3 separate regions of the Homo sapiens genome follow, and regions 1 and 2 are each linked to region 3. Evidence: fine-mapped expression QTL. A gene starts in region 3. Each other region holds a variant in brackets. All regions are shown on one strand. Distances are between the middles of the regions. Region 1 has its middle 20 kb from the start of SLC13A5. Region 2 overlaps FBXO39 (F-box protein 39). Region 3 holds the start of XAF1 (XIAP associated factor 1).

What was found. PIP is the estimated chance that this variant, and not a neighbour inherited with it, causes the effect.
Region 1: its variant is fine-mapped to the expression of XAF1 in whole blood (TOPMed, PIP above 0.99).
Region 2: its variant is fine-mapped to the expression of XAF1 in whole blood (INTERVAL, PIP 0.95).

What each region holds. Positions count from the first base shown.
Region 1 is chr17:6,729,312-6,737,494 of GRCh38, reverse strand. No RefSeq gene overlaps it. Among named protein-coding and RNA genes, the nearest start is that of SLC13A5, 20 kb to the right of the region's middle. The variant A/G (reference allele first, on the strand shown) is at 4,258.
Region 2 is chr17:6,779,075-6,787,257 of GRCh38, reverse strand. It overlaps FBXO39 (F-box protein 39), which reads right to left. Exons shown (of 4, transcript NM_153230.3): 2 at 6,367-7,469; 3 at 302-478. The coding sequence starts at 7,389. Among named protein-coding and RNA genes, the nearest start is that of FBXO39, 7.0 kb to the right of the region's middle. The variant A/C (reference allele first, on the strand shown) is at 3,146.
Region 3 is chr17:6,752,345-6,760,527 of GRCh38, reverse strand. XAF1 (XIAP associated factor 1) reads right to left here and starts at 4,482. Exons shown (of 7, transcript NM_017523.5): 1 at 4,418-4,482; 2 at 2,304-2,439; 3 at 810-866; 4 at 1-122. The coding sequence starts at 4,449. RefSeq lists enhancers at 4,306-4,825, 7,804-8,098, 8,124-8,183.

The DNA of each region.
Region 1 (8,183 bases), 23 kb after region 3:
TGAGTTCTTTATTTGACTCTCAGCTTGGTCACTGTTGGTGCATGTCAGGCCTCTGAGCCCAAGCTAAGCCATCATATCCCCAGTGACCTGCACATATACATCCAGATGGCCTGAAGCAACTGAAGATCCACAAAAAAAGTGAAAATAGCCTTAACTGATGACATTCCACCATTGTGATTTATTTCTGCCCCAACCTAACTGATCAATGTACTTTATAATCTCCCCCACCCTTAAGAAGTTTCTTTGTAATTCCCCCCACCCTTGAGAATGTACTTTGTGAGATCCGCGCCCTGTCCCCAAAATATTGCTCTTAACTCCACTGCCTATCCCAGAACCCATAAGAACTAATGATAATCCCACCATCCTTTGCTGACTCCTTTTTTGGACTCAGTCTGCCTGCACCCAGGTGAAATAAACAGCCTTGCTGCTCACACAAAGCCCGTTTGGTCCTCTCTTCACATGGACACGTGAAACATTTGGTGCCGAAGATCCGGGTCAGTGGGACTCCTTCAGGAGACCAGTCCCCTGTCTTCACCCTCACTCCGTGAAGAGATCCACCTATGACCTCAAGTCCTCAGACCAACCAGCCCAAGGAACATCTCGCCGATTTTAAATCGGGTAAGTGGCCTCTTTTTACTCTCTTCTCCAACCTCTCTCACTATCCCTCAACCTCTTTCTCCTTTCAATCTTGGTGCCATGCTTCAATCTCTCCCTTCTCTTAATTTCAATTCCTTTCATTTTCTGGTAGAGACAAAGGAGACACATTTTATCTGTGGAACCAAAACTCCGGCGCTGGTCACGGACTCGGGAAGGCAGCCTTCCCCTGGTGTTTAATCATTGCGGGGACGCCTCTCTGATTATTCACCCACATTCCATTGGTGTCTGATCTCCGCAGGGACACCTGCCTTGGTCATTCACCCACATTCCCTTGGTGGCAAGTCAATTGCGGGGACGCCTGCTTTGGCTGCTCACCCACGTTGCAGCCCAGGGCTGCTCCCCACCCGCCTTCTCTGTGTCTCTACCCTTCTCTTTACACTTGCCTCCTTCACTATGGGCAAACTTCCACCCTCCATTCCTCCTTCTTCTCCCTTAGCCTGTGTTCTCAAGAACTTAAAACCTCTTCAACTCTTGCCTGACCTAAAATCTAAGTGTCTTATTTTCTTCTGCAATACCGCTTGACCCCAATACAAACTCAATAATGGTTCTAAATAGCCAGAAATCGGCACTTTTGATTTCTCCATTTTACAAGATCTAGATAATTTTCGTCAAAAATGGGCAAAAGGTGTGAGGTGCCTGACGTCCAGGCATTCTTTTACACATCGGTCCCTCCCTAGTCTCTGCTCCCAATGAGACTTGTCCCAAATCTTTCTTCTTTCTCTCCTGTCTGTTCCTTCAGTCTCCACCCCAAGATATGAGTCCTTTGAATCCTTCTTTTCTATGGACTCATCTGACCTCTCCCCTTCTCCCCAGGCTGCTCCTTGCCAGGCCAAGCCAGGTCCCAATTCTTCCTCAGCCTCTGCTCCCCAACCCTAAAATCCTTCAATCACCTCCCCTCCTCACACCGGTCTGGCTTCCAATTTTGTTCCCACGACTAGCCCTCCCCACCTGCCCAACAATTTCCTCTTAGAGAGGTGGCTGGAGCTGAAGGCATAGTCAGGGTACATGTGCCTTTTTCTCGATCAGACCTTTCCCAAATCAGCCAGCGTTTAGGCTCTTTCTCATCAGACCCCACTAAATATATACTGGAATTCCGATATCTAAATCTGTCTTACAGTTTAACCTGGAATGACTTAAATGTCATCCTAACTTCTACCCTCTCCCCAAATGAACGGGAAAGAGTTTTTTCTCTAGCCCAATTTCACACTGATAACTGCCAGCTTCATGAGCCAGACCTCCATGAAGGCATTAGAGCAGTTCCCCGAGAAGATCCCAATGGAACTATCAGGCAAATTCCCCAGGTATAGCTAGGCGAGATTACATGGTTTCCTGCCTAGTTGAAGGGCTTAAAAAGGCAGCTTACAAAGCTGTTAATTAAGACAAACTTAAAGGAACTACTCAAGGTAAAGACGAAAACCCAGCCCAGTTCATGGCCTGCTTAGGAGCAACCCTTAGACTCTTTACAGCCCCAGATCCTGAAAGGTCAGAAGGCTGTCTTATTCTCAATATGCATTTTATTTTATTACCCAATCTGTTCCCAACATTAAATAAAGCTCCAAAAATTAAATTCCAGCCCTCAAACCCCACAACAGGACTTAATTAGGTGTACAATAATAGAGTAGAGGCAGCCAAGTAGCAATGTATTTCTGAGTTGCAATTCCTTGCCTCCGCTGTGAGACAAACCCCAGCCACATCTCCAGCACACAAGAACTCCAAACACCTGAACCGCAGCTGCCAGGGGTTCCTCTAGAACCTCCTCCCTCAGGAGCTTGCTACAAGTGCCAGAAATCTGGCCACTGGGCCAAGGAATGCCCGCAGCCTGGGATTCCTCCTAAGCTGTGTCCCATCTATGTGAGTCCCCACTGGAAACTGGACTGTCCAACTGGCCCGAGGCTCTGACTGACTCCTTCCCATATCTTCTCGGCTTAGCAGCTGAAGACTGACACTGCCCGATCGCCTCAGAAGCCTCCTGGACCATCGCGGATGCTTTGGGTAACTCTTACAGTGGAGGGTAAGTCCGTCCCCTTCTTAAGCAATACGGAGGCTACCCACTCCACATTACCTTCTTTTCAAGGGTGTATTTCCCTTGCCTCCATAACTGTTGTGGGTATTGACGGCCAGGCTTCTAAACCTCTTAAAACTCCCCAACTCTGGTGCCAACATGGACATTCTTTTATGCACTCTTTTTTAGTTATCCCCACCTGCCTAGAGCTCCCTTATTAGGTCGAGACATTTTAACTAAATTATCTACTTTCCTGACTATTCCTGGGCTACAGCCACACCTCATTGCTGCTTTTTCCCCAGTTCAAAGCCTCCTTCGCATCCTCCTCTCATATACCCCCACCTTAATCCACAAGTATAGGACACCTCTACCCCCTCCTTGGCGACTGATCATGCACCTCTTACCATCCCATTAAAACCTAATCACCCTTACCCTGCTCAATGCCAATATCCCATCCCACAGCATGCTTTAAAAGGATTAAAGCCTGTTATCACTCGCCTGTTACAGCTTGGGCTTTTAAAGCCTGTAAACTCTCCTTACAATTCCCCTGTTTTACCTGTCCAAAAACTGGACAAGCCTTACAGGTTAGTTCAGGATCTGGCCTTACCAACCAAATTGTCTGGCCTATCCACCCCGTGATGCCAAAGCCATATACTCTCCTATCCTCAATACCTCCCTCCACAACCCCTCCATAACCCATTATTCTGTTCTGGATCTCAAACATGCTTTCTTTACTATTCCTTTGCACCCTTCATCCCAGCCTCTCTTCGCTTTCACTTGGACTGACCCTGACACCCATCAGGCTCAACAAATTACCTAGGCTGTACTGCTGCAAGGCTTCACGGACAGCCCCCATGACTTCAGTTAAGCCCAAATTTCTTCCTCATCTGTTACCTATCTCAGCATAATTGTTCACGAAAACACACATGCTCTGCCTGCTGATCATGTCCAGCTAATTCCCCAAACCCCAATCCCTTCTACAAAACAACTCCTCTCCTTCCTACGCATGGTTAGGTACTTCCGCCTTTGGATACCTAGCTTTACCATCCTGACTAAACCATTATGTAAACTCACAAAACCAAACCCAGCTGACCCCATAGATCCTAAATCCCTTTGCCACTCCTTTCCGTTCCTTAAAAACAGCCCTAGAAGCTGCCCCCACACTAGCTCTCCCTAACTCATTCCAAACCTTTTTCATTACACACAGCCAAAGTGCAGGGCTGTGCAATCGGAGTTCTTACACAAAAGCCAGGACCGCACCCTGTAGCCTTTCTGTCCAAACAACTTGACCTTACTGTTTTAGCCTAGCCCTCATGTCTGCATGCGGTGGCTGCTGCTGCCCTAATACTTCCAGAGGCCCTCAAAATCACAAACTTTGCTCAACTCACTCTATACAGTTCTCATAACTTCCAAAATCTATTTTCTTCCTCACACCTGACACATACACTTTCTGCTCCCTGGCTCCTTCAGCTGTACTCACTCTTTGTTGAGTCTCCCACAATTACCATTGTTCCTGGCCTGGACTTCAATCCGGCCTCCCACATTATTCCTGATACCACACCTGGCCCCCATGACTGTATCTCTCTGATACACTTGGC[A/G]TTCACTTCATTTCCCCATGTTTCCTTCTTTCCTGTTCCTCACCCTGATCACACTTGGTTTATTGATGGCAGTTCCACCAGGCCTAATCGCCAAACACCAGCAAAGGCAGGCTATGCTATAGTATCTTCCACATCTATCATTGAGGCTACCGCTGTGCCCCATCTCCACTACCTCTCAGCAAGCCGAACTCATTACCTTAACTTGGGCCCTCACTCTTGCAAAGGGACTATGCGTTGGTATTTATACTGACCCCATATCCTGCACCACCATGCTCTTTTATCAGTTTCTTCTATTAATTGATTTTCCAATTTGTTGGCATACAATTTCTCATTATAGCCACTAATGATCCTTTGGATTTCTGCAGCATTGGTTTTGGTGACTCCTTTTATTATCTCTGATTTTATTCATTTGGGTCTTCTGTATTTTTTTTTCTCAGTTAGTGTGGCTGAAGCTTTGTCAACTTTGTTTATCTTTTCAAAAAAACCAACTTTTCATTTCATTGATCTTCTGTAGTGTTTTCTTCATTTCAACTTCAGTTATTTCTGCTCCGATGTTTATTATTTCTTTTTTCTACAAATTTAGGATTTGGTTTGCTCTTGCTTTTCTAGTTTTTTAAGAGGTGTCATTAGATTGTTTATTTGAAGTTTTTCTACTTTTTTGACGTAAGTGCTTATTATAGCTACACACTTTCCTCCTAGTACTGCTTTCACTGTATCCCACAGGTTTTGGCATATTGTTCCTGTTATTTTTTCAAGAAATTTTTCAATTTTCTTCTTAATCTCTTAATTGGTACACAGGTCATTCAGAAGCATATTGTTTAATTTCCATGTGTTTTTATAATTTCCAAAATTTCTCTTGTTATTGATTTCTAGTTATATTTTATTGTGGTCGGAGAAGATACTTCATATTATTTCAATCCTTTGGAGTGTTTTAAAGCTTTTTTTGTAGGCTAACATATCTCTCCTTGAGAACAGTGCCAAGGAGAAGAATACATATTCTGTAGCCATTGGATGAAATATTCTATAAATATCTGTTAGGTCCATTTGGTCTATAGTGCAGATTAAGTCCAATTTTTTTTTATTGATTTTCTGTTTGGATGATCTGTCCGCTGCTGGAAGTAGGGTACTGAAGTATCCAGTAGTTATTTTATTGAGTCTATCTCTCTCTTTAGTTCTAATAATACCTTCTTTATACATCTGGGTGCTCCAGTGTTGGGTGCATATATTTTTATAATCATTATATTTTCTTGCTGAATTAACCTCTTTATTGTTATGTAATGGCCTTCTTTGTCTCTTTTTACAGCTTTTGTCTTAAAATATAATTTTGATATAGTTATAGCTACTCCTTCTCTTTTTTGGTTTCCATTGGTAAGGAATATCTTTTTCCACCCCTTTATTTTCAGTCTATGTGTGTCTTTTTAGGTGAAGTGTGTTTCTTGTGGGCAACAAATTATTGGGTCTTGTTTTTTCACCCATTCAGCCACTCTACGTCTTTTGATTGGAGAGTTCCGTCCATTTACATTCAACGTTATTATTGATAAGTAAGGACTTACTCCTGCCATGTTGTTATTTGTTTTCTGGTTGCTTTGTGGTCTTTTCTTCCTTCCTGTGTTCTTTTTGGTGAAGGTCATTTTCTCTGGTGGTATGTTTTAGTTTCTCATTTTTAATTTTTGTGTATCTGTTGGTTTTTGGTTTGAAGTTACCATGAGGCTTGCAAATAATACATTATAACCCATTATTTTAAACTGATGTCAAATTAATGCTGATTGCATAAACAAACAAGCAAGCAAAGAGAAAACTAATAAAAACTCTACACTTTAACTTCATCCTCCACTATTTAACTTTTTGTTGCTTCTATTTATATCTTATTCTACTATGTCTTTAAAGAGTTGTTGTAGTTATTATTTTTGATTAGTTCATCTTTTAGTCTTTCTACTTAAGATATGAATAGTTTCAACACCACAATTACAGTGTTATAATATTCTGTGTTTTTCTGTGTATTTAATGTTACCAGTGAGTTCTGTACTTTCAGATGATTTCTTATGGCTCATTAACGTCCTTTTCTTTCGGATTGAAGAACTCTCTTTAGCATTTATTTCCTTCAGACAGCTCTGATGTTAATGAAATCTCTCTGTTTTTATTTGTCTGGGAAAGTCTCCATTTGTCTTTCATGCTTGAAGGATATGTTCACTAGATATACTATTCTAGGGTAAAAGTTTTTTCCTTCAGCACATTAAATATGCTATGCCACTCTCTTCTGGTCTGCAAGGTTCCCACTGAAAAGTCTGCTGCCAGATGTATTGCGGCTCCATTGTATGTTATTTGTGTTTTTTCTCTTGCTGTTTTTAGGATCCTTTCTTTACCCTTGACCTTTGGGAGTTTGACTATTAAATGCCTAGAGGTAGTCTTTTTTGTGGGTTAAATCTGCTTGGTTTTTCTATAACCTTACTGTACTTGAATATTGATATCTTTCTCTATGTTTGGGAAGTTCTCTGTTATTATCCTTTTGAATAAACTTTCTACCTCTACCTCCTCTTTAACACCAATAACTCATAGATTTGCCCTTTTGAGCCTATTTTCTAATTCTTGTAGGTGTGCTTCATTCTTTTGTCTGTTGACTCCTTCAACTATGAATTTTCAGATAGCCTGTCTTCAAACTCACTGATTTTTTCTTCTGCTTGGCCAATCCTGCAAAAGCCACAGTGTTACTGGGCTTGGGATGCCTCAAGTGCAGATACAGTTGCGGTGACCAAAATTTTAGATCAGAAAACCCAAGTCCCTCCAAATTCTTGGAAAGCCTACCCAAGAAGTATGGGTACAAACAAGCTCTGACTGCAAAGGCTACAATAAATACCTAATTCTTCAATGCCGAGACACCAATGAACGTTTATAAGCATCAAGAACATCTGGGAAAATGTGACCTCACCAAATGAACTAAATAAGGAACCAGGGGCCAATCCCAGAGATACAGAAATATGTGACCTTTCAGACAGATAATTCAAAATAGCTGGGGTTTTTTTTTCCATGACACAGCCTTCAGGAGGTCCTGAGAACATGTGCCCCAAAATAGCTGTTTTGAGGAAACTCAATGAAATTTAAGATAACACAAAGAAGGAATTTAGAATTTTATCAGATACATCTAACAAAGAGATTTAAACAATTAAAAAGAATCAAGCAGAAATTCTGGAGTTGAAAAATGTATCTGTCATACTCAAGAAAGCATCAGACTCTCTTAATAGCAGAATTGATCTGCCTTGTGGTCTTTGATGAGATCTGAAAGAATTCTCTGGGTTACTAGGCAGAGGCTCTTGCTCTCTTCCCTTACTTTTTCCCAAATAAAGAGCTTATCTCTCTTTGCTGATCTGCCTGCAGCTGGGGCAGGAGTGACACAAGCACCTCTGTTGTCTCCGCCACTGGAATTGCACTTGGTTAGACCTGAAGCCAGCCTAGCCCTGGGTCTCGTCAAGGCCCACTGTGACCACTATCTGGATACCACCTATGTTCGCTCAAGGCCCTAGAGCCGTGCAATTAGTAAGTAGTAAAGCTAGCCAGACTCATGTCTTTCCTTTCAGGACAGCAAGTTCTCCCAGCCCTGGGGAGGTCCAGAGATGCTATCTAGAAGCCAGTACCTGGAGTCAGAAATTTTAGGAATTTGCCTGGTGTTGTACTGCTGCTGAACTGACACCCAAGCCCCATGTCAAAATCTTCCCCACTCTTTCTTTCCCTTTCCACAAGCAGAGGAGTCTCTCCCCATGGCCACCACCACCACAGGCCCACAGGGTCAAAGGTGGGGTACTGCTAGGATACCACCAATGTTCACTCAAGGCCCAAGGGCTCTTCAGCCTGCTTGTGGTGAATGCTACCAGGCCTGGGTCTCACTCTTCAGGGCGGTGGGCTCCCTTCTGGCCCAGGGCAGGTCCAGAAAT
Region 2 (8,183 bases), 27 kb before region 3:
ACGCACACACACACACACATACACACACACACACGGTGACTACACTTTTCAGGGCTTGACAGCAACTTAAATGATCTACACATACAGTTGTTGAATCAGGAAAATATGTTGGCAGAATCAGAAAAAGACCAAACCCAACTACTAGAAAAGAGAGCTCCAGATTCCCTTCTTTGAAACTGCTGATTTTCAATGAACAGATGATTGTCCCCCACTGCCTTATTCAGCCCTTCGTTCCAGAGCAGAAGCACCATTCCTGGATGCCCCCACTCTACGCCGTGGAACCAGCCTGGGGACCTCTTACCTTGAATACACGCAGGGCACACTGCCGTTCTTTCTGACTCTTCAGGATCCGCTCCACAAAACTAACATCAAGGAAAGCCCAGATTTTGAAGTAAAACAACTTCCTGCAGGATATGATGAGGAGGTGCAGCTCCTCGTCGAGTGACTCATGGTTGTTGTTGAATTCACAAGTTAATTTCTGGAAGAGCACCAAAAGGGAAGATGTGTGTGGGCAGAGATGCTGAGCCTGGCTGAGTTGTTCTGTAACATTTCCACGACCTGGCTCTGGGCCTGATAGCCATGATGATTTGGGGGTTTTTAACTTTAATTTTTAATTTTTGTGGTACATAGGTACATATATTTATGGGGTATATGGGATATTTTGATGTAGGCATACAATGTGTAATAATCACAATGGGGTAAATAGAGTATCCATGACTTCAAGCATTTATCCTTTGTGTTACAAACAATCCAATTATACTCTTTTAGTTTTTAAAAAATGTACAATTAAATGATGATTGACTATAGACACCCTGTCGTGCTATCAAATACTAGATCTTGTTCATTCTTTCTAACTTTTTTTGTACCCATTAGCCATCCCCACTTCCCTCTGCACCCCCTACTACCCTTCCCAGCCTCTGGTAAGCGTCCTTCTACTCTCTATCTCCATGAGTTGAATTGTTTTAATTTTTAGCTCCCACAAATAAGTGAGAACATGCAAAGTTTGTCCTTCGGTGCCTAGCATATTTCACTTAACATAACAACCTCAGTTGCATCTATGTTATTGCAAACAACAGAATCTCATTCTTTTTTGTGACTGAATAGTACTCCATTGTGTACATGTACCACATTTTCTTTATCCATTGATGGACACTTAGGTTGCTTCCAAATATTGGCTATTGTGAACAGTGCTGCAATAAACATGAGAGTGCAGACATCTCTTTGATATATTGACTTTCTTTCTTTGGGGTATACACCTAGCAGTGGGATTGCTGGATCATATGTAAGCTCTATTTTTAGTTTTTTGAGGAACCTCCAAACTGTTCTCTACAGTGGCTGTACTACTTTAAATTCCCACCAACTGTGTATGAGAATTTCCTTTTCTCTACATCCTTTCCAGCATTTGCTATTGCCTGTCTTTTGAATAAAAATCGTTTTAACTGGGGTGAGATAATATCTCATTGTGGTTTTGATTTGCATTTCTCTGATGATCAGTGATGTTGAGCACCTTTTAATATACTTATTTTGCCATTTATATGTCTTCTTTTGAGAAATATCTGTTCAAGTCTTTTGCCTATTTTTTAATTGGATTACTATTTTTTTTTCCTATAGAGTTGTTTGAGCTCTGTATATTCTGTTTATTTATTAATCCCTTGTGATATGGGTAGCTTACAGATATTTTCTCCCATTCTTCCTGTGGGTTGTCTCTTCACTTTGTTGATTGTTTCCTTCATTGTACAGAAACTTTTTAACTTGATGTGATCCCATTTGTCTATGTTTGCTTAGATTGCCTGTGCTTGTGGGTATTGCTCAAGAAGTCTTTGCCCAGTTCAATGCCCTGGAGAGTTTCCCCAATGTTTTCTTGTAGCAGTTTCATAGTTTGAGGTCTTAGATTGAAGTCTTTAGTCCATTTTGATTTGATTTTCATATATGGCAAGAGATAGTGGTCTAGTTTCATTCTTCTGCATATGGCTATCCAGTTTTCCTAGCACCATTTACTGAAGAGGAGATCGTCCTTTTCCCAATGTATGGTTTTGGCATCTTTGTCAAACATGAGTTCACTACAGATGAATGAATTTGTTTCTGGGTTCTCTATTCTGTTCCATTGGTCTTTATGGGATTAATAAATAACCAGAATATATAAGGGGCTTAAAATCTGTTTTTATGTCAGTCTCATGCTGTTTTAGTGACTATAGCTCTGTAATATAATTTGAAGTCAGGTAATGTGGTTTCTACAGTTTTGTTCTTTTTGGTCAGGACAGCTTTAGCTATTCTGCATCTTTTGTGGTTCCATATATATATATACACACACACACACACACACACACATATATATATATAAATTTAAGATTCTTTGTTCTATTTCTGTGAAGAATGTCATTGGTATTTGGATAGGATTGCACTGAATCTGTAGATGGCTTTCGATAGTATAAACATTTTGACAACATTGATTCTTCCAACTCATGAACATAGAATATCTTTCCATTTTTTTGTGTCCTTTTCAATTTCTTGCATCAATATTTTATAATTTTCATTGTAGAGATCTTTCATTCCTTCGGTTAATTCCTAGGTATTTAATTTTATTTGTAGCTATTATAAACAGGATTACTTTCTTGATTTCTTTTTCAGATTGTTCACTGTTGGCATATAGAAATGCTACTGATTTTTATATGTTGATTTTGTATCCTGCAACTTTACTGAATTTGTTTAGCTGATAGTTTTTTTTGTTTTTGTTTTTGGTGGAGTCTTTAGGTTTTTCCAAATATAAGATCATATCATCTTCAAACAAGAATTATTTGACTTCATTTTCTATTTGGGTGCCCTTTATTTCTCTCATCTGATTGCTCTAGCTAGGACTTCCAGTACTATGTTGAATGGCAGTGGTAACAGTGGCATCCTTGCTCTGTTCTGGATCTTAAAGAAAAGGCTTTCAGTTTTTCTCCATTCAATATGATACTAGTTGTGGGTCTGTCATATATGGCTTTTATTGTATTGAGGTATGCTCCTTCTATACCCAGTTTTTTGAGAGTTTTAATCATGAAGGAATGTTGAATTTTATCAAATGCTTTTACAGCATTAATTAAAATAATCATATGCTTTTTGTTCTTCATTCTGTTGTTATGAGGTGTCACACTGATTTATTTGC[A/C]TATTTTGAACCATTCTTGCATCCCTGGGATAAATCCCACTTGGTCAGGATGAATGATCTTTGTAATGTGTTGTCGAATTTGGTTTGCCAATAATTTGTTGAGGAATTTTCCATCAATGTTTATTAGGAATATTCACCTATAGTTTTCTTGTTTTTGATGTGTCTTTATCTGGCTTTGGTATCAGGGTAATATCAGCCTTGTAGAATGAGTTTAGAATTATTCCCTCTGCTTCTATTTTTCTGGAATGGTTTGAGTAGGATTGGTATTAGTTCTTCTGTAAATGTTTGATAAAATTGATAAAATTCAGCAGTACAGCCATCAGGTCAAGGGCTTTTCTTTGCTTGGGGACTTTTTATTACAGCTTCTATCTTGTTACTTGTCAATGGTCTGTTCAGGTTCTGGATTTCTTCATGGTTCAATCTTGGTAGTTTGTACGTGTGTAGGAATTTATCCATGTCTTCTGGGTTTTCCAATTTATTGGCATATAGTTGCTCGTTATAGGCTCTAATTATCCTTTGTATTTCTCTGGTATTGGTTGTAATGTCTCCTTTTTCATCTCTTGATTTTATTTATTTGGGTCTTCTCTCATTTTTTCTTATTTTTGCTAATGGTTTGTTAATTTTGTTTATTTTTCAAAAAGCTTTTATTTCACTGATCTTTTGCATTATTTGTTTCACTTTCACTCATTTCTGCTCCAATCTTTATTATTTCTTCTCTTCTACCAATTATGGGATTGGTTTGCTCTTGGTTTTTTCAGTCCTTTAAAGTGTGTCATTAGAATGTTTATTTGAAGTTTTTCTTCTTTTTTGATGTAGGCGCTTATAGCTATAAACTTCCCTCTTAGTATTGCTCACTGTATCCCACAGGTTTTGGTAGCTGTGTCTGCATATTGTTTGTTTCAAAAATATTTCAATTTCCTTCTTAATCTCTTCATGACCAACTGGTCATTCAGGAGCATATTGTTTAATTTCCATGTCTTCATATAATTTCCAAAGTTTCTCGTTATTAATTTCTAGTTTTATTCTGTTGTGGTCAGAGAAGATGCTTGCTATAATTTCAATTTTTTGACTGTTTTAAGACTTTTTTGTGACCTAACATATGGCCTATTCTTGTGAATGATCCATGTGCTAAAGAGAAGAGTGTGTGTTCTTCAGCCATTGGATGAAATTTTCTGTAAATATCCTTTAGGCCCTTTTGGTCTATAATGCAAATTAAGTCTGCTGTTTCTTTGTTGATTTTGTGTCTTGAAGATCTACCCAATACAGAAAGGAGGGTGTTGAAGTCTCTAGCTGTTATTATATAGGGGTCTATCTCTCTCTTTAGCTCTAATAATATTTGCTTTATATGTCTGGGTGCTCTGGTGTTGACTGCATATATACTTACAATTGTTATATCCTCTTGCTGAATTGACTCTTTTATTATTATATAATGACTCTGTCTCTTTTTATAGATTTTGTCTTGAAATCTATTTTGTCTGATATAAGTATAGCTACTCCTCCTCTTTTTTGGTTTCCATCGGCATTAAATATCATTTCCCATCTCTTTATTTTCAGTCTATGTGTGTCTTTATAGGTGAAATGTGTTACTTGTAGGCAGCAGATAATTGAGTCTTTCTTTTTAATCTGTTCAGCCACCTATGTCTTTTGATTGGAGGGTTTAGTCCATTTGTATTCAATGTTATTACTAAGTAGGGACTTACTCGGGACATTTCGTTATTTGTTTTCTGGTTTTTTGCGGTCTTCTCTTCCTTCTTTTCTTCCTTCCTGTGTTCCTTTTAGGGAAGGTGATTTTCTCTGGAGGTATGTTTCATGTCTTGCTTTTTATTTTATCTGTTGTATGTTTTTAGATTTGAGGTTATCATGAAGCTTGCAAACAATATCTTGTAACTCATTATTTTAAATTGATGACAACTTAACACTATTGCATAAACAAACTAATAAACAGCAAAACTAAAACTAATAAAAACTTTTTACCTTAACTTTGTCTCCCTACTGTTTAACTTTTTGTTATTTCTGTTTGTATCTTACTGTACTGTCTATGTCTTGAAAAGTTGTTGTTGTTATTATTTTCGATCAGCTTATATGTTTGTCTTTCTACGTAAGATATGAGTAGTTTACTCACACAATTCCAGTGTTACAATATTCTGTGTTTTTCTATGTACTTACTATTACCAGTAAGTAATAGTAAGTATACGTCTTGTACCTTCAGATGATTTCTTATTGCTCATTAATGCCTTTTTCTTTCAGATTGAAGAACTCCCTTTAGCATTTCTTGTAGGACAGGTCTGGTGTTAATGGAATTTGGGGGCTTTTTAGATAAGGGACATTGGACATGTAGTTCTTAGAGGAAGAGATTTGAGAATGATGGTGATCTCATCCAAGGTTGCAAAACTTGGAATTTGGAGGCAGTGTACTTGGAGTATACAAGGTGCTCGTCCCAGCCCTGCAGTGGACTGGCTGGGTGACTGTGGGCTGGTCATTGAACCTCAAGTTCTTCTGCAGCACACAAGGGTCATGATGATGTCTGCCGTACCCCACCTTTGGTTTATGTGGGTACCTAATGAGGTATTAGCACCTTGGAGTCCATCCATGTTTGTAGAGATACATAAACCTGTTAATATCAGTTGTCACAACCACTGTGAGGTCCTTGGAAAGACAAAATGATCCTGATCTTACAGGTGAGAAAGCTACTAGATTAGGGAACAACCCAGAAACTCTGAGCTCTTCGGTTGTGTAAATCAAATTTGACTTTTTGTCTGGCCTGGTCCTCCCCATTCTATCTCCCCAATTACCAGGCACTGGCACTGCTATAACCAGACAGATCCCCCACTGAGATCTGACCATAGGAGCCACAGGGTCTCCTGCATGCTGCTGTGACCTCGTGGAAAAGTAGGAAGAGGCAGCCCAGCCGCTATTCGCCTGCAAGGCACCTCCTGGCTCAGGCTTCATAGCTCTGAGTGGGGACTTAGGGGTTTTCCCTAGCTGACAGCTAACCAGATAATTCCTTGTGTCTGTACCACATGTAGGAAGTGAGTAGCAGCTTCTGTTGCCTACTGTGGTCTTGGGAGGAGGGCAGGAGGCTTAGTTGGTGGTATTTCCTAGAACTTCAATTTGAGATTGAGTGAACATTTGGGAGCCTAGCCAAGAGCAGGCAGCAGTGGGCTTTCTTCTGGGGAAGCCAGTCACCTGAACAGCAGTCACTCCTCACAAGTCCTACCTACCTGCAGAGTGTGCCGGAAGGTGGGCAGGAGATCTATCAGAGTGGGTCTCATTGAACAGTCTGGGTCACTGAAATAGCAGCTTCTCAGACTGATGCTCCTGATCGGGATCTCCTGCAAGAGGATTCGGGCCAAGCGTTCGTACTTCATGATCCGTTCAAAGAAGAAGTTCACCTTCAGATTGGTGGCCTGCCTGGCCAGCTTGGCCCAGGACATACCCCAGATGACCTGTCCGTGGGGGTCATGAACGTGGCATTTGATGTTGATGGTCCGGAGGGTGCTGGCATTCTCACACAAGTTCTCAAGCAGCTCGTCGGAGATACAGTTGTAGTTGAGGTTCAGGGACACAAGATTGTGGAATGTGGACATGGTCTTTTTGAACTGGGGGCTGTTGTAGACAGCAAGGTGATGGCTGAAATAGTCCTCGATGTTGAGCTCTGAGATCACATTCTCATTCCTCATGTAGCTGAGGGAGTCGAGAATTTGGCAGCCTTGCTCCACGGTCAGCCTGGCCCCTTTTAGGTTGAGATAATCCAGGCGTTTGCCCATCTTCTTTAAGAAGAAGCTCAAGCTGCTGATGAATGAGCTCCTGATGCTGTTCCTCCATACCAGGCGGTCCAGCTCCAGGTATTGGATGGAAAGAGATTTCAGACGGTTGTTGCTCTTACTCAGACAAGACAGGAGGCCCCGCATGGTGACCTGGAACTTCTTGGTCAAGACAGCATTGTAAGGATTCATGAATTTGACCTCCAGGTGCTCCAGATAACGACCAAACTTCTTAACATACCAAACAGCTGACTCAACTTCAGATGCATGTACCCTGGAAGGTCTCCCGCTGAAGGTGATGGTTCTGTACCGCCAGAGCTCAGCAGAATACATCATCTGGTTCCACTTTCTGCAGACAAGAGCAGCCCTGGACCTGTCCCTGTCTCCTAGCCACCAGAAAACACGGCACAGACACAAATCGGGCAGAAAGGCCCAGCAGCTCTGGTCTTGGGGCTGGATCAGTTCACTTTCTTCGTCCATCCAGGAACTGGGATGTACAGTGCAGCTGTGTGTTAGGCAGGGCTTCCAAAAATGAGGAAAGGAAAGCAATCACTTGCTTTCTGTGGGGAATAAAAAGGAAGAGCCATTACCTGTCAAACAGAGATTAAACTCAAATGAACCAGCTTTCCCTGTGGTCCCAAGTGCATTAGGCACTGTGCCAGGTGTGGGTGGTTCAATGATACATTCATGACACAGTCCACACCTGCAAGGATTTCACAGTCTATCCAGGGATACAGACCAGTACTCAATTATAACCCTGTGAGAGAGCAGGAAGGTTCAGGCAGACTCATAGTGTGGGGTAGCACACATGCAGGGTGACTTACTCTGTTTGACTAAATATAGTGTTTGGAAGTAGAGAGGGCTGCTCAGAGGAAGCGACGTCTGAGTTGGGTTTTGAAGGGTGAGTAGGATTTGCAAGGCAGATCAGGTGGGCCTAGTGGTAGTGGATGAGGAGCTGATGCATTCTGGGCAGAGGGAACAATACGTGCAAAGCCACAGAACTGTGAATGTATGTGATGTGTTCCCATTCAGGGAGCTAAAAATGGTTTGGTCACCTGGCACTTAACTTGTTAAGTGGGCTGGAAATGGAGGAACTGGATCACGTGGGAGCAGTGGGAAGTGCTGGATCAAGGGGTCCTGCGTGATGTGATAAAGATTATGTCCTAGAGGCCAGAGAGTCCCACTTCCCCTTTCCCCAAGATTCTGGAATTCTGACATGGCCTGTCCCCTTCCTGTATCTAGCTACATTGCTGACAGTTGTGTAAAATTCAAGA
Region 3 (8,183 bases):
CCACAGCCTTGGCAGAGCTCTGTCCGGCTGCCACAGTAGGACTCGTGGAGCTCCAGCTTGCTGAGCTGCATGTCCAGTTTGCAGAACTTACACTCAACAGGGCGCTCCTGGCACTCATTGGCCTGTGGGAGGCAGCAGGAAGGGCATGATCACTGGCCCTTTTTTTTTTTTTTTTTTTTTGAGACAGAGTCTCATTGTGTTGCCCAGGCTGGAGTGCAGTGGCTTGATCTTGGCTCACTGCAACCTCCGCCTCCCGGGTTCAAGCAATTCTCCTGCCTCAGCCTCCCAAGTGGCTGGGACCACAGGCGTGTGCCACCACGCCCAGCTAATTTTTGTACTTTTAGTAGAGACGGGGTTTCACCATGTTGGTCAGGCTGGTCTCGAACTCCTGACCTCGTGATCCACCCGCCTTGGCCTCCCAAAGTGCTGGGATTACAGGCGTGTGCCACTGCGCCTGGCCGATCACTGGCCTCTTTGACTGTAGGCAGATCAAGGACTTGTGCCCATCTCCCTAGGGAATTAGGGCCAATACGAGAAAGCAGATGAGAAGGGCCAGAGTGCGGGACTGCCTTCGGGGGATCTGAGCTCTGATGGACTCATGGACCATGGAAAACCCTTCTGATCAGTATCTGGGGGACAGGAGAACCTGTGTTATGCGGTGGGCTAGTTCTCCACTGCTCTCCAAGCCTAATGGGGTGAAAAGAGTGGTCAGGTGGAAATCTCTATTACTGGCCTCCCGTTTCCCCTTCCTCTCCTTTTCTCAGGTTGGTCTATTTGGCTGTAAAGGAGAAATCACATGGGGCTCTTACCTTATGAAACTCCAGCGAGGACTTCTGCATGCTCTGCTGACACATCGTACACCCAACCTAAACACACACACACACACACACACACACACCAGATGTGGGTCCACCCAGCACCCAGGGCCTGCCCCACATCCACTTTGGCTCACAGTGTTCCGGGTTTGGGTCTGTGAACTCCCAGAGGGCAGGGATCCGATGTGGCTACCTCAGTGTCTCTCTAGCACCCCGCCCAGTGTTCAAGAAGTGTTTGTCAGACCAGTCTGAGTTGGCAACGGCTGCCTGAGCTTGAGTATCTCCAGAGAGACAGATCAGGGGCCCCAGGAGGAATGGACATGGAAAGGCGGGAAACAGGGCTCCATCTGACTGCCTTCCAGGACCTTCCTTTTTCACATCCTCTCTTTACAGATCTCAAGAGAACAGCCAGTCTTTCCTGAAACCAGAACCTCTTGCCTATGCCAGATCCATAAGCCTGTAGGGAAAGGATTGGAAATAGGAAAACTGGAGGTAGACTCAGATTAGCATGAAAAAGGCAGGATTAACATTTCCTTTCCATGGGCTTTGTGTGGAGGGGCTAAATGACTTCCCATGGCCCTCAAGTGAGTCTCTGCCTGGGGGACTGGACCCTTGCCTTAAGTCCCCAGCCCTCACCCCAACTCCCGGACCCCATCTCTCCTGCAGGGAGGACTGGAGCCATTCCCTGACTCCCAGACCCCTTCTTTCTTGCAGGGAGGATGGAACACTTGCCCCTCCCAGACCCCATCTCACCTGCAGGGAGGACTGGACCCTCGTCCCCCAACTCTCAGACCCCATCTCTCCTGCAGGGAGGACTGGACCCACTCTGTGACTCCCAGATCCCATCTCTCCTGCAGGGAAGATGGAACACTTGCCCCTCCCAGACCCCATCTCACCTGCAGGGAGGACTGAACACTCTCCTTGACTCCCAGACCCCATCTCACCTGCAGGGAGGACTAGACCCTCGTCCCCCAACTCTCAGACCCCATCTCTCCTGCAGGGAGGACTGGACCCACTCTGTGACTCCCAGACCCCATCTCTCCTGCAGGGAAGATGGAACACTTGCCCCTCCCAGACCCCATCTCACCTGCAGGGAGGACTGAACACTCGCCTTGACTCCCAGACCCCATCTCACCTGCAGAGAGGACTGAACACTCGCCTTGACTCTCAGACCCCATCTGTCCTGCAGAGAGGACTGAACACTCGCCTTGACTCCCAGACCCCATCTCACCTGCAGAGAGGACTGAACACTTGCCTTGACTCTCAGACCCCATCTCACCTGCAGAGAGGACTGAACACTCGCCTTGACTCTCAGACCCCATCTCTCCTGCAGAGAGGACTGAACACTTGCCTTGACTCCCAGACCCCATCTCACCTGCAGGGAGGACTAGACCCTCGTCCCCCAACTCTCAGACCCCATCTCACCTGCAGGGAGGACTGAACACTCACCTTGACTCTCAGACCCCATCCTCCCTGCCGCCTCCTCACCTGCTGGTGCTCAAGCTTGCAGTGCTCCTCCATGGTTTCCTTGGGGACAGGCTCCTCACACTCCGGACACAGGACCAGGAACCGCAGGCAGTAAGCCTCATGGAGGGTGAAGTTGGCAGAGACTACATGTCTTTTACTACAGGGTCAAGGTGTGGGGATAGAAAAATAGACTTATTTTCATATTATAAAACATGGAGCTGTATTTCATACCCAGGGCTAGATCTCCAGAGGCCTTAAGCACTGAACATGTGATGATGATGACACCACCTGCCCCACACTCCCTGTGTGGGTCCAAAAGTCAGAACAGTGAGGCAGCATCTAATAAGAATAAGGATGATCTACAGAGCTCTTACATTGCTGGGGCAGGGCATGGGAAGGAGCAGGAGGGAGGAATTACAAAGGGGCATGGGGAGCTTTTGGGGTGACAGGAAGCTTCATTATCTCAATTACGGGGATGGTGTTTCATGGATGTATATAACTTAGGCCAAAACTTATCAATTGCTACCCTTTAAAATGTGAGGTTTATTGTAGGTCAATTATACCTCTATAAGGCTGTTTTTAAAATGAAACATTTCATTTTAAATAATGTAAATAATTAAATTATTTCAATTTAAATAATTTGAGAGAAGTGCCAAATTCTCTTGAATCTTTTTTCTTGTTTTCTGGTGCCCCTGTTTGGTCCACAGTGTTAGGAACGCAGCCCTGCTAGGCTCACGCTTCCTGCCAGGGCCATGCCAACTTCCAAAATCTCCAAAGCGAGAGCTTCCCAAGTCTCCCCTGCCTTCAGGTTCACCTGCGCTAACTCACAGAGACTCCGAGGTTCTTCCTGGAGACCACAGTGAAGGAAGGGTTCTGAGCCTCCCACTTCCTGGGCAGGGCATTTTTCTCTAACCGTCCTTTTTGCCAAGAAGTGCCCCCTTTTGGCTGGGTGTGGTGGCTCATGCCTGTAATCCCAGCACTTTGGGAGGCCGAGGCGGGTGGATCACCTGAGGTCAGGAGTTAGAGATCAGCCTGGCCAACATGGTGAAACCTCATCTCTACTAAAACAATACAAAATTAGCCGGGCATGGCGGTGCACGCCTGTAATCCCAACTACTCGGGAGGCTGAGGCAGGAGAATCACTTGAACCCGAGAGATGAAGGTTGCAGTGAGCTGAAATCGCGCCATTGCACTCCAGGCACTCCAGCCTGGGCAAAAAGAAGCGAAACTCCATCTTAAAAAAAAAAAAAAAAGAAGAAGAAAGAAAGAAATGACTCCTTTCATTTCCATCAGCTCTTGCTTGTGGCAGCTTGGGAGAAGGGAAATGGGGTGGCTGTAGCCGTAAAGGCCCAGGGGACGAGAAGAGTTACATGCCCATGTTCCTGGCACAGGGGACGTGCTCCGAGAGGGACTGTCAAAGCCTCACTCCTCTTCTGCCCAGGCAGCGGGCACACAGGCAGCATCATCTTCCCTTCCTCTGCTCTCTCTCCTCTGCCTGACCTGGCCCCTTCTCCCCCTGCTCTTCCTGGGCTGGTTGAGAAACCAGAGTACTTGAAGGGTCTGGCTGGAGCAAAGCTCTCTGGGGAGGGTCCACTCAGGTCCCTGTCACAGGTAGGGAGCTTTGAGAATGGGGCTTTTTGATCGGTCAGATTCCGCGCCCCCCCTCCCGTTAGAGGTGTGGTCCCAGCCCCCTGCTCTGTCCCCCCTGCCCCGCCCCACGGCTCCCTTTCCAAGGAGGGTGAGAGTAGTCCTGGAGAATCTCCGTGGGACACTTTCTTTCACAGATGGGTGTGAAGGTCATAGTATCAGAACCCCAAATTAGGACCCAAGGTCTCACAAGTATGAGTAGCCCAGTTGGGACCACTGGCCGGGCTATTTGGCTTCAGAACTGTCCCAGAAAGCCTAACATTTGGGGGAAAGGGGCTGCAGTGAAGTGGAGGTAATGCTGCCCACCCCCACCCAGAGATTACCAAGTTTAAACCCTCCTACCCTTGGGGCCCACGGTCTCCAGCTGCTTGTCCTCCTAAGTGTTCTTATGCAGGAACCACTTTCTGCTCCCTTCAGAAACAGCCCTATGTCGTCTACGTCTCTCCCTCGCCAGCCCGGGTCTGCCGCTGGAGAAAGCACTTTCTTACCAGTTCCTGCACACCGAGAAGTCTCCTTCCATGTTCTGCTCTCTGCAGGCTTTCGGTTGAGTTTCGTTTCTTGCAGGCAAGGAAACAAAACTGAAAGTTTTCCGATGGCCCAGCCCACAGCTTCAGGGAGGGAGGAGATCTTCAGAATTCTCGGCTCAGGAGTTCCCCTTGATTCCTGAGGCTGGACCCTCCCAAGAAGCCCCTTTACAGCATGGCCAGCCCCTGCTGTCGCCCTTGGCCGTCATTCTTTGCTGCTGTCACAGCCGCATCTACCTCCCTGAGGCTGGCAGCCTGAGGCCAGGCCTCTCCTGGGCAGCACAGCAGCTTGTTCCCTCACCCTGGCTGGCTGGCTTCTCTCCGTCTGGGTCTCCATCCCTTTTCCAAACCATCCACCTCCCACCCTTCTCCCCCATCTCCGGCTCCCTTCTGGTCCTCCCCTGCAGGAAAGAGGGAACTTGCCATGTTGAGCTTGAATGCTGTTCCCTAAAAATGGCTCCTGGACTTCCAGGCGGTGAGGACCTTGCAAACAGCGTCCAGGGAGGCTCTGGGGATGCAGGGTGGTGTGAGCCCAGACCCAATCTGGTGTGTATCCTCCTGGGGGTCCTTAGAGTTTTTCCAGACCCTAGAAACAGCTGTGCTAACAGAAGAACTCTAAACAACATCTGGAGTGATGACAAGCAGGCCCAGAGAATTCCCGTGGCGTCTGCCAATGGGGTGGGTGCCGCCTCTCTGAGGAGGATAACAAGATTAAGGGAAATGTCCAGGCAGGGCTCCAGCCTCCAGGCAGGCTCTAAAATTCAGGCACTAAATGAGAAGCAGTGTGTGGTGGTACTGATGATCACAGTGATAGGAGGGAAGAATGAAAGACTGTTTCAACATTGTTCCTATGTTCCAGGCACCATTCTAAGCATTAGGTAGGCATTGTCTTCGTTTTAATCCCTCATGTAAGCATTATTAACTCCATTTTGCTATGGAAAACAGAGGCAGTGACAGAGTGAGACTCTGCCTCAAAAAAGAAAAATGAAATGAAAAAAGAGAAAATGGAGGCAGAGAGAGGCTAGGCCAATCGCTCAACATCAGAGCTGGGATTCACACCAGGTTGATATGACTCAGGTGTCTATGTACCTAACCAAGGCCCCATCCACCTCATTTGACAGCTAGTTGGGGTAGTGAGCACTTGGCTGAGAGTCAGAGACTGAGGTTTGCATCTTATCTTGTTCCCTTCCTCATCGGCTAGGCAAGCTCCTTAATCCTTCTGACCCTCACTACCCACTCCTGTCTGTCTCTGGGCAGTCTGTCAATATCAAGAATGAAAAACGAGTGGGCTTGGCTTGGTGGCTCATGCCTGTAATCCCAGCACTTTGGGAGGCCGAGGTGGGCGGATCACGAGGTCAGGAGTTCGAGACCAGCCCGACGAACATGGTGAAACCCCGTCTCTACTAAAAATACAAAAATTAGCTGGGTATGGTAGTGCTTGCCTATAATCCCAGCTACTCAGGAGGCTGAGGCAGGAGAATTGCTTGAACCCAGGAGGTGGAGGTTGCAGTGAGCCGAGATTGCACCACTGCACTCCAGCCTGGGCAACAGAACGAGACTCTGTCTCAAAAAAAAAAAAAAAAAAAAAGGGCTGTGCGCGGTGGCTCATGCCTGTAATCCCAGCCCTTTGAGAGGCCGAGGCGGGTTGATTATGAGGTCAGGAGATTGAGACCATCCTGGCCAACACAGTGAAACCCCGTCTCTGCTAAAAACTACAAAAAATTAGCCGGGCGAGGTGGCGGGTGCCTGTAGTCCCAGCTACTCGGGAGGCTAAGGCAGGAGAATGGCGTGAACCCAGGGTGGAGCCTGCAGTGAGCCGAGATCGCGCCACTGCACTCCAGCCTGGGCGACAGAGCGAGACTCTGTTACAAAAAAAAAAAAAAGAAAGAAAGACAGGAAGAAAGAAATGGAAAAGAAGGAAAAATGAAGAACTTTCTTTTCACATATTGTCTCCTGCTGAGATGGGATAGGGGTGGTGGCAGGGGTGTATAGATTGGACACCTTAGAGGAATGGAATGTGTGGCCAGGGGATAGGAGTGGAATTAGAAGTGACCATAAGTTGCTTCTCATCTACATCCTAATTTTCTTCCAAGATGTTTCCTCCTATAGACTGTCCCACCCACGCCAACCCTTCCCTTCCTCATCAAAATCCCAGCAGTTCTTCAGGACCAACTCCTATGCCAACACTGATCTAGAATCTACCTCCTTTGTCTCTGGCTTTGGTTAGTTGGCTGTGTGTCTATTGTCTCAACTCCTCCCCATCCAATCACAGGCATGGGCGATTTGAGAGCCAGCTCTTTCTGACCCACCACCCCTGCCTTCCTGGAGAGACCCGCGGGCTTTGTGCTTATTAGGCAGAGTGCAGTATTGAGCTTCGCAGTAGCAGGCAGTCAAATGCTGGCTGACCCGAATGGATGGGGTGTTTTGAGATAATTAAGCAGGGAGTTGGAAATCTCCCCCAACCCACACAACACCCCTGAGTCGGAGGGCTCTCAAAGTGGCAGCAATGGCCATTTTCTTTTCATTTCTCAAGATAACTTAGATTTCATAAAGAATATATGAATATACACTCTTTAAAAAAATGGAATGTTACAAATACAGCAATGTTTCTCTTTGACTGTCACGGCTGTTCCTGGGCCATCACTATTATTAATCAGAGAGTGTATGTAGGAACACTCTGGTTAGCACAAAAGCCTGTCCCCATTTCCACTACGACATCAATCGGTGCTGTGGGCTTGTATGATTTCATCATTCTGCCACCCGTCTTTGGCTGGTCGCCAACCCCAATCCCATTTAAAAAAAAAAAAACAAAAAACAGCTAGATGAGAAATGCTCTGTTGTGGGCTTAGAATTCCTTTCCAGGACACTGTGGCTACCCACTTGGCCGTTGTGGGGAGTTTCCGGCAGTCTCTTTGTGTCAGGCCTGTGGGTCAGGGGAGGGGGGTGAAGGTTGTCACAGGAAGCCAGTCTCTCAGACGTGAATTGGCCGGGCTGGCCATGTCACCTTTGCAGGAATCGGGGGGAAAGGGGAGCAGGAAGTCCTGGCTGGACTAGGACACAGGAATAATACACCCCTCCGTGCATTGTTTTGAAGATCAGAAGAGAAATTGTGTGAAAGCTGTACTTGTACAGCATGGAAGACAGGAAAGAATATTTAAAAAGGATTGTTTTAATAGTTTGGCTTTGAGAAGGGATCTTATTTAGGCTTTCTTCTTTTAAGGGATCACTATGCTAAGGAAGATGATGTAACGACAGAGATATTTCACTTCCCAGACAAAAATTATATGGTGCAATTGCACACACTTCTGTCGGTGGTGTCTTTAGAAGAATCCTGTGGTCAGAGTGGGCCTGAGTCCTGGGAGATGTGATCATATAGTCAGACTCCCCAAGCACAACGTGTTTGGATGGGAGTTCGTTTGTCAGACCACAGGAAATTGCATCAGATGACTAGTCTCTGGATGGCATTCAAGCCTGGGAATATCTGTGACTGTGTTTGGGGAAGACTCTAGGCCTGGCTGGGCAGCAAAGACGGGGAATGACCTGCTGGCTGCTGCTTAGTTGGCATATGAAGGGGAAGGAAGCTTGTCATTAAACTCATGGCAAGAAAGAGCAACTCCATGGCATTCTGTCTGTGTGGGGAGTGACCAGTACTTTTCTCTTCCTTTCTTTCTTTGAGAAGTCTCTTTTCACACATTCATAGTTTTGTTTTTGTTTTTTTCTTTTTCCTGGT